Linked DNA regions of Homo sapiens: region 1 is linked to region 2. A link means that fine-mapping ties the variant in region 2 to the expression of a gene that starts in the linked region. Tissue or cell type: tibial artery. Region 2 holds a variant in brackets; the other region holds the start of a gene. All regions are shown on one strand. Distances are between the middles of the regions.

Region 1 (4,000 bases), 460 kb before region 2:
AACAAGAATAAGCCTTTGGCAGTTAATTTCTAATTTTAGATATATACATATGTATATATATAATTGTTCAAATATGTGATAATAGCCAAAAGAACAAAGATATACACAAGAGAAGAATCACTGAACAAAGGAAGAGCACACATCTATTCTCTCAAAATACGAAAGTCAGATGACAGTCTTCATCAGGTTTTTAAGAGGAGCAAATCAGTTAATACATGTGAAGCATATACAATATTGCTTGACACGTAGTAAGTGCTAAATAAACTGCAGATAATGAGAAACTCCAGAATAATGAGAATCGGGATATGAGTGGTAGTTGACACCCATCTTCCACAGCAGGATCAACAAGATCATTTCATTAACATCTCAATAATGCAGCCCCACATTTCAAATAGCTATATTTTAAAAGTCTTATTTATAGCATTATCATAGTTTTACTGTGTTCCTTTATTAATAACAATATTTGGGGTTTGTATAGCACCTCTGTACATAAGAGCTTAAAGAACTGTCATACATCTTGTCTTATCCCTATTACAGCGGTCAGGTATTTTTTTGTCCGTTTTACAGATGAGGAAATTGAGGGGTAGCAATGTCACCCAGCTAGCAGTAAGTGGCAAAAAGCCGTAAATTTCACGAACAGTTTCTTCTTTGTTAATGTGGATATAGTACTGAACAATGGTTACTATGGGGTATTAGATTCTACTGGTGGTCTAACAGCTTCCAATATTACTCTACCCAGCTTTGACTTCTAAAAATAGATCTCCAACCTAATAAATTGAATATTTCAAGTTCAATAATAAGATAACACAGGTAGGGTCCCCTTCAGGACTCATTGCATTCCTACTCAGGAGGCCTAAATCACTTGCACCTTTTCGAATTATATAGATCATTTACACTTGGGAAAGAAAGATAATAATTGCTTATCATGGATGAAGTACCCTATTTATAATACGCAGGCCGCCTGCCTGACACTTTCATATTACACCAGATTTAGAAGGACCCCACAGGGATGTGGTGTCACAGTCTGGTTACTGCAAATTGGTAATACTATAATTAAGCATCAGAGTTCTAAACACATATGTGTGCATGCATCTCCTCACAAATGTGAAAGAAAACTGTTTCAAGAAGTAAGGGAGAATGAATTTCACTTTGCAATAAGCAATTTTAAAATATAAGTATATTTTAGGATCGTCCTCAAATATTCTTTCCAAACAAGGCAACTCCCTCACATGGAAATCCCAAGGCAGAAATGTGCCAGAATTTTATTCTTTTCCTTTCTGTGACGAGAAACCAAACTAAAGCTTAAATAAACATATAATTGCACCCCCCGCAGGCTTGGAAACCTCCCTTACTTAAAACTCCGGCCCGAGACTGAGACAGGGGCCTAGAGAGTACATTGCAGCAAACGGCTCCATAAATAACCAGCCACACAATAGCAAGAAAAATAAACTGTTAACAAGCGCCTAAGGCTTCTACAGGGCCAAGTGAAAACAGAAAGCCGTCCAGTCACCGTCCCTACACAGTGAAATACCGTCACAGGTAATCTCGGGCACCATCTCTCTATTTTTGTATTCCTCTGGAAATAAAACCGCATTTACATGTACATTTTAGGTACATACATGGACCAAATGTTTATGACAGAGAAGTAGACAAAGCAGAGGAAGGAGAAGCAGCTGCACAGAGAGGGACAGAGGGAGCGAAGAGACAGAGACAGCGAGCTGTTTGCTACCTAATTCTAGCTCACAAACAAGGAAGCGCAGCCAATTCTCTTCGGCGATTCAGCGTTCCTCTCACCGCAGCTGGACAGATCTCGGCCTTTCTCTAATCACCATGGCAACTGCACCTCACCGCCACCGGAAATAAGATGCAGAGCCCTTCTCCAAACGATCCGGCTAGAAATCTAGGAAGCGCTGATCCGGAGCGCACAGAGACAGCTGTGTTGCTCCTCTATCGCGGGGGTGGTATGGCCAGAGTAGTGAGAGAAGGTGCTCTGTTACACCAGCAGGAAATAGGTGCTGTCCTGGGCCTAGAACTCCCCGCTCGCTCCTTTGCTCGCGCACACCCGGATCCTTCGTCGCGGGGAGGATGTTTCCGCCCGGCCGCGGTGGGCTTGACGCAACGTCCAGCGCGCGCTTTTCATGCCTTGGCGTTTCCTTTGGCGGATTTTCTGTTTTCGGAAGTTGCTGGGTTCGTTTTATTCAGCGGCAGTGGTGCTTTCCCGAATCTCAGAATGCCGTAGGTATCTCCTCCCCAGGTATTGCTGTTTTGGGGGCCCTCTGCAAGAAGAGAAGATATTATGTGGCCCAGTAGCCTTTCTCGTTTTCCTATTTTTTCGGAGTATGAACTTGTCTCCTCTGTCCACAGGCAATTCCCTTCGCTTGGTACCCTCAACTCTACGTCTCCTCCAGCGGTACTCATACGATAGTCCTCCTTCGCTTTCTGTTTCTACGATGCTTTTGACAGATTTCGTAAACTGTGGGCTGTATTTAGGTGATGTCTAACTTGAAATAACATAAATAAGGTTGACACACAGGATGGGACAGAGTAGATGAAAACACGCCTTCGTAGTTTGTCAGTCCCTTGCCTTCATTAATGTGGCGCGTTCGTGTAAACCCGTGGGAGAACTCATGGACTGAGTGGGTCTAGATACCTGGATTCCAGATAAGACTCTTTCACTGTTGGGCAAGTCACTTATCGACCCTGAGCTTCGTTTTTTTTTACTTACACAAATAAGTTTGTACTGCATGATCTCTAAATTCCCATCTATGACCAATAATCTGATTATTGAGAATGACCATAGTGGGAATAGGCATTGTGCTAGATAAGATTCATCTGTTTTTCATATCCTTCATCCATCCTATATTGAGATGCATAAAATAGTTGCTACCCTATAGAAACTTAAAAAAGCCATTAAAGGTTGGGGGAGTGGGGTGGATATCAAACACCTGTAATTTCTCCTTGGCCGTCCTTGTCCTCAGGTTGATTTAGGTACCCCCTCTAGTGTAACCTGTTCCTTAGTTTATTTCAGGATTAAGTAAAATGCAAAGTAACACAGCTGGGGAAATTTTTGTATCAAATAGGAATTGACATGAAAGGGGAAAGCTGTACAGAAATGATAACCTATATTTATTGAATCTTGAATTACAATGTGGGTGCTGTATTAATCAATTTATCTACGTTTTTTCATTGAATCCTAAAATACTTTAGGGGATGGGGGCTGCTATTATCTTTACAGATAAAGAAACCCATCACCTAATAGGGTGTTCAACACAGCTGCCAATAAATGCATGTTTTACTGATGCCCTTAAAAGTTATGGATTATTGAGGAGGTTTTCCTTTCCCCAGAATTAAGCAAAGAGACTTGTTTCCCTACTCTTGCATTAGAAAAATCATCCAGTTCTCAAATAAACAAAGCTGCAAAGATAATGTCACACAATCACACACACAAAATCCCTAAGAATACAGTGAAAACAGAGGTGTATTTGCCAAACAAGTGGTAATACCTCCTGAACTGTGTGTATCTGTGTATAGGAGTGGGGAACCAAAAAACTATGAAAAGTGGAACTTTTTTTTTCTTTTTTTGAGGCAGAGTCTGGCTCTGTTGCCCAGGCTGGAGTGCAGTGCTGTGATCACAGCTCACTGCAGCCTCTACCTCCTGGGCTCCCACATGCCACCATGCCTAATTTTTTTATTTTGTAAAGACAGTGTCTCCCTGTGTTGCCCAGCCTGGTCTTGAAGTCCTGGGCTTAAGTGATCCTTCCACCTCAGCCTCCCAATGTGCTGGGACTATAGGAGTTAGCCACTGTGTCAGGCCTAAAAGTGGACCTTTTTGACAACTGTCTTCCTAACATATGCACACAAGATGTTATATTAGGCTTTTAGATAAGTATATTCTGGTAATAAATACACAACCTTAAAGTTGAGGTTAACATCTCACATATATAGCTAATATATATGTGAAACTAGCAATTACTTTGCTAATTTTCTAAGTTTTAGCAAA
Region 2 (5,224 bases):
GCCCCAACACCATTTGTTAAACTATCTGGAACCCATGTATATTACTCTACTAATGATGTACTCAAAAACTGGAAAAATGGTGACCACTATTAGTCGCTCCTAATTAGGTAAATCTTAAAAGAGAGAAAGAGGGAGGTGGGGCAGGGAGGGAAGGAGAGAGAAAGGGAGAGAAAGAAAGAGAAAAACAGAGATTTGGCCAGGGATCCAAATTTAGATTAGAAAATTGGAATAAAGGATACAATAAGCTTGCAATGAATTGATCCTGATTGACTTTTTCCTTTGACAATTAGATTCTACATCACCATGGTGATTCTGCTTTTCCGAGGAAAAGACAAAGAAAATCTGTTTGGTAGGTCTGGGATAAGATAATATTTTCATATATTAGCTGTATTTTTTTTTAGCTATTTCATTATTTTCCGTGATACCTCTTCCTCATCCAACCAGATTGTTAAGTAAGGTTGGCTGCAGAAGAAAAGAGGAAAAAAGGTTTTTTTAACTTGTGGTAAAATATTCATAACATAAAATTTACCATTTTACCCATTTTTAAGTGTACAGCTCTATGGCATTAAGTACTTTCACATTGTTGTGCAAAAGTTCTCCAGAACATGCTCATCTTCCCAAACCAAAACTGTGTAACCATTAAAGATGAACTCCCCATTCCCTTCCCCAACTGGCAGCCGCCATTCTACTGTCTGTCTTATGCATTTGACCACTCTAGGTACTTCGTGGAAGTGGAATCATATAATATTTGTCCTTTTATATGTGGCTCATTTAACTTAGCATAATGTTTTCAAGAGTCATCTATGTTGTAGCATCTGTCAGAGTTTTCTTCCTTTTTAAAGCTAAATAAATCCACTGTATGTATGGACCATATTTCGTTGTTCCATTCAGCCATCAATGAACATTTGATTTGCTTCTACCTTTTGGCTCTTGTGAATAATGCTATTGTGAACATGGGTGTACAAATAGCTGTTTGAGTCCTTGTGTTCACTTCTTCTGGGTATATGCCCAGAAGTGGAATTGCTGGACTATATGGTATAATTTTTTAAGGAATCACCATAGTAGCTTTTTGTTTGTTTGCTCGTTTTTTGAGATGGAATCTCACTCTGTCACCCAGGCTGGAGTGCAATGGTGCAATCTTGGCTCACTACAACCTACACCTCCTGGGTTCAAGCGATTCTCCTGCCTCAGCCTCCCAAGTTGCTGGGACTACAGGCATGTACCAACACACCTGGCTAATTTTTGTATTTTAGTAGAGAGGGGGTTTCGCCATGTTGCCCAGGCTGGTCTTGAACTCCTGGCCCTAAGTGATCCGCCCGCCTTGTCCTCCCAAAGTGCTGGGATTACCAGCATGAGCCACCGCGCCTGGCCAGGAATCACCATACTAGTTTTCACAGTGCTTGTAACATTTTACATTCCCACCAACAACGCACAAGCATTCCAATTTCTCCACATTATTGCCAGCACTTCTTATTTTCTGTTTTTGTTTTGTTGCTGCTGTTGTTTGGGATAATAGCCATCCTGAGATATGTGACATGACATCTCATTGTGGTTTTGATTTGTATTTTCCTCATTACTAGGGGTGCTAAGCATCTTTTCATGTATTTATTGGCCACCTATATATCTTCTCTGGAGGAAAAAAGTTGTTTGAATTTCAAAAGTTTAGTCTTTGGAGTAGCAAAATTCTTAGGGGTTGCAAAAGAGGGGTTGTGATAAAGGTAATTAGAATAAGCTGAGTTAGGCAAACTGGATGGACTAGAGGAGAGAGATTCCATGGTCAGGCAAGAGCATTCAACAAGGATGTGTGCCCTAGAGAATGGGCCTCTGCCCTGCCACCCACCTCCCCAAGGCAGAAACTCTGGAGGGAGGGGGAATGGAAACCCCAGATAGGTTTGGGGGGAATTCAAAAGCAGAGATAACCTGTGCTCAATTTGCCAGTAGTGGAGAGTTCAGACCTCAGATGACATGAAACAGTAGGTAGACTCAGCTGAATGGGCATCTGGCAGATAGATGGGAGATAACTACATAGAGGGCGCTACAAGAGAGCAGCAAAATGCCCTCTTCCTGCTCTGAGAAACAGTGGTCCTGCAGGAGGACCCTGCAGTGATCTGGATGGGTAGATGACCCGACAAGCGATGACATTTCAGTGAATGCTAGTATAGATAGGTGACTACCGAGAATATGACAGTCCCCTCTCCAGCTGCAGGGCCTTACTCCTACATAAACCCCTGGAACAAGAATGCAACCTCAAGGAAACACGAAGAGGAATTCTGTACTGTCCAAGATTAAGAGTTTGACCCCTGACAGATGGAGGATTGTAACAGAAATATACCTTATTAATGAAAACATAAAGGATCTATCATGCATGTTTGAGTTTGAAGGCTATGAGTCATATCTCCTAGAGGTCAAGTACAGAAGTCATTGCCACAGGCTGGAGAAGCAATTGGACTCTATGTCCAAGAGAGGAATAAGAGAATAGACACCAATGAAGTGGCTCACGGAGTAGCAAAAGTGGGTTAATAATGAAGATATTATTCCCCCATTTTAAAGTACTTTTAAGTTTCAAGGCGCCTTTGATTTGTTACCTGATTTGGTTGTCAACCTTGTGAGATGATAGAAAGA[A/G]GCAGGTTTTATTATCATCCCTATTTTACAAACGAAGACACTGAAGCAGGTTTTCTGTCTTGACACTACTGACATTTGGGGCCTAACAATTGTTTGTCAGGGGACCTGTCCTGTGCATTATGGGATGTTGGGCAGCATCCTTGGCCTCTACCCACTAGATACCAGTAGCACCCCCCAGTGGTGACAACAAAAATGTCTCTAGACATGACCAAATACCACACCTCGTATCCTGCATCCACCTACCTCCCCAAGTAGGGAACCACTGAACAAGAACAAGGATCAGGACTTGACCCCAGTATCCTGACTCCTAGTTCAGAGTGCATGGGAGAAATTCAGCGCCCCTTCCCCACCCCCAGGTCCAACCTGCCATTGCACCAACGTGCCCAAAACCACGTTAAAATGGTCTCCTAACATTTTATTGCTGAAAGGGACTAAGATTCATCCCTGCCTTTTCAATTTACATGTGAAAACACTGAGCTTCAGAAAGTTTCAGTTATTTGTTGAAGAACATGAAGCTGGTGTCGGAGGACGCTGGTACTTAAACCTGGGTATCCTATCTCGAATTCAGGGTTTGACATACTATCTCATTGCCGAGAGCCAACATTGGTTCAGAAATGCTCCAGAACAGACTTGGGAAGAAAAGCAGGATATTTCCTGGTTAGCTGTCCCTCTATAAAGGGCTATTTTTAGTAAAATGGGGGGAAATCAGCATTCAGCTCAATTGAAAATACATCTGGCATTAATTCATTGTTAATTGACCAGGATGAGTAAAAAGATGGCTACTTCCAAGGCCTCTCTAATGGAACTATTAGTGAATTTTCAGGTCAACTAACTCCTGTCACTGCCTGACAAGGGAAATGGCAATCATTTGCCAGTGTTAGCAAGGCTCTCACTGCCCTGGAAAATGGGAATCAGTCATCCTGGGCTGTCAGGTTCCCTATCTCCATGTGTAATGCCCCACCCCCCTCCCCTCCACCCCTGAGACCCTTACCTTCCCTTGAATGGCCTCAGGTTTGCCCTAAATGTGAGTAACTTTTGCCAGGTCTAAAGAGCTTTCATTGAAATCTGGAATGGTCCTTCACACAATGCTGTAGTTTGGCAAATACTATTATCACTCCCATTTACTAATGTGGAAACTAAACTCAGGCAGTTGCTTGACTTGTCAAAGTTCTCACAAATGGCAAGTGCCAAGGCAAGGTTTCAAACCTGGGAGTCCAGCAACAAATCCCATGCCATTTCTTCTGGTGGCTTTATTCTGCGCCATCATCTGCCCCTTGTCTCCTCACTTGGCTTGTTTTTCTCTTTTTTAGACAGAGTTTTGCTCTTGTTGCCCAGGCTGGAGTGCAGTGGCATGGTTTCAGCTCACCGCAACCTCCGCCTCCCAGGTTCAAGCGATTCTCCTGCCTCAGCCTCCCAAGTAGCTGGGATTACAGCACCCACCACCATGCCCGGCTAATTTTTGTATTTTTAGTAGAGATGGGGTTTCACCATGTTGGCCAGGCTGGTCTCAATCTCCTGACTTCATGATCCACATGCCTCGGCCTCCCAAAGTGCTGAGATTACAGGCATGAGCCACCACACTGGGCTGCCGCTTCTTTTTCCCTATACATTTTTCCTTCTTTCAAAGGCTAAAAGGCTGGAGAGTTGGGTGTTTGGATAAATGGGAAACCATTTCAATTACTACAACAAACTCAACAAATATTTATTGAGGATCTACTATGTTCCAGGAACTCTGTTAGGTGCTAAAGATGTATGATCCATAAGCTAGAGCCCCAAATCCTCAGTATGGCTTTTAAGGCCCACCATAATTTAGTCCTAACTTACCTTTCTAGCCTCATCTCGAGCCACTGCTTGTCATACAACCTACACTTCAACTGTACTAAAATAATGTTCACTCTTCAAACATGCCATGAGTGCCTACCCTCCCTATCTCTCTTTACATTCTCTTTCTCTCTGCATGTGCTGTTTTCTCTCTCTGGGATGTCCTTCTCCCGCCACTATCTGGTGAACTTCTATTCTTACATCAAGGCCCTTTCAGATGTCACCTCCTCTATAAAAGCTTCCCTGTTTTTCATGGCAAAGCTGGTCAGTTGCACCTCTTTTTTGCTATGATTATTTATTTATACTTCTATTATAAGGTGTTCAGACTGTATTGTAATTATTTATATCCATGTCTGAATCACATGCATTGTGATGGTTACTTTTATATGTCAACTTGACTGGGCTAGGGATACCCAGATAGCTGGTAAAACATGATTTCTGGGTGTGCCTGTGAGGGTGGTCCTGGAAGAGATTAGCATTTGGATTGGTAGACTCACTACATTGCCGTCCCCAATGTGCACGGGCATCATTCAACCCACTGGTAGCCTGAATAGAACAAAAGGTAGAGGAAGCCTGAATCTTCTATCTCTTTGAGCTGGGACGTCTCTCTTCTCCTGCCCTTGGACGTCATCAGCACTCCTGCTTCTCAGTCTTCAGACTCAGATCAGGCCTTATATCATCAGCTCCCCTAGTTTTCAGACCTCTGGACTTGGACTGAATTACACCAATAGCTTTCCTCGTTCTGCAGCTCACAGATGGCAGATTGTAGGATTTCTTGGCC

Evidence for each region. PIP is the estimated chance that this variant, and not a neighbour inherited with it, causes the effect.
Region 1: it holds the start of ITGB3BP, and the variant in region 2 is fine-mapped to the expression of ITGB3BP in tibial artery (GTEx, PIP above 0.99).

The regions. Positions count from the first base shown.
Region 1 is chr1:63,521,364-63,525,363 of GRCh38, reverse strand. ITGB3BP (integrin subunit beta 3 binding protein) reads left to right here and starts at 2,139. Exons shown (of 9, transcript NM_014288.5): 1 at 2,139-2,235. The coding sequence starts at 2,231. It overlaps EFCAB7 (EF-hand calcium binding domain 7), which reads right to left and starts at 1,839. Exons shown (of 14, transcript NM_032437.4): 1 at 1,730-1,839. RefSeq lists enhancers at 1,876-1,955, 2,117-2,740.
Region 2 is chr1:63,061,132-63,066,355 of GRCh38, reverse strand. No RefSeq gene overlaps it. Among named protein-coding and RNA genes, the nearest start is that of LINC01739, 51 kb to the right of the region's middle. The variant A/G (reference allele first, on the strand shown) is at 2,623.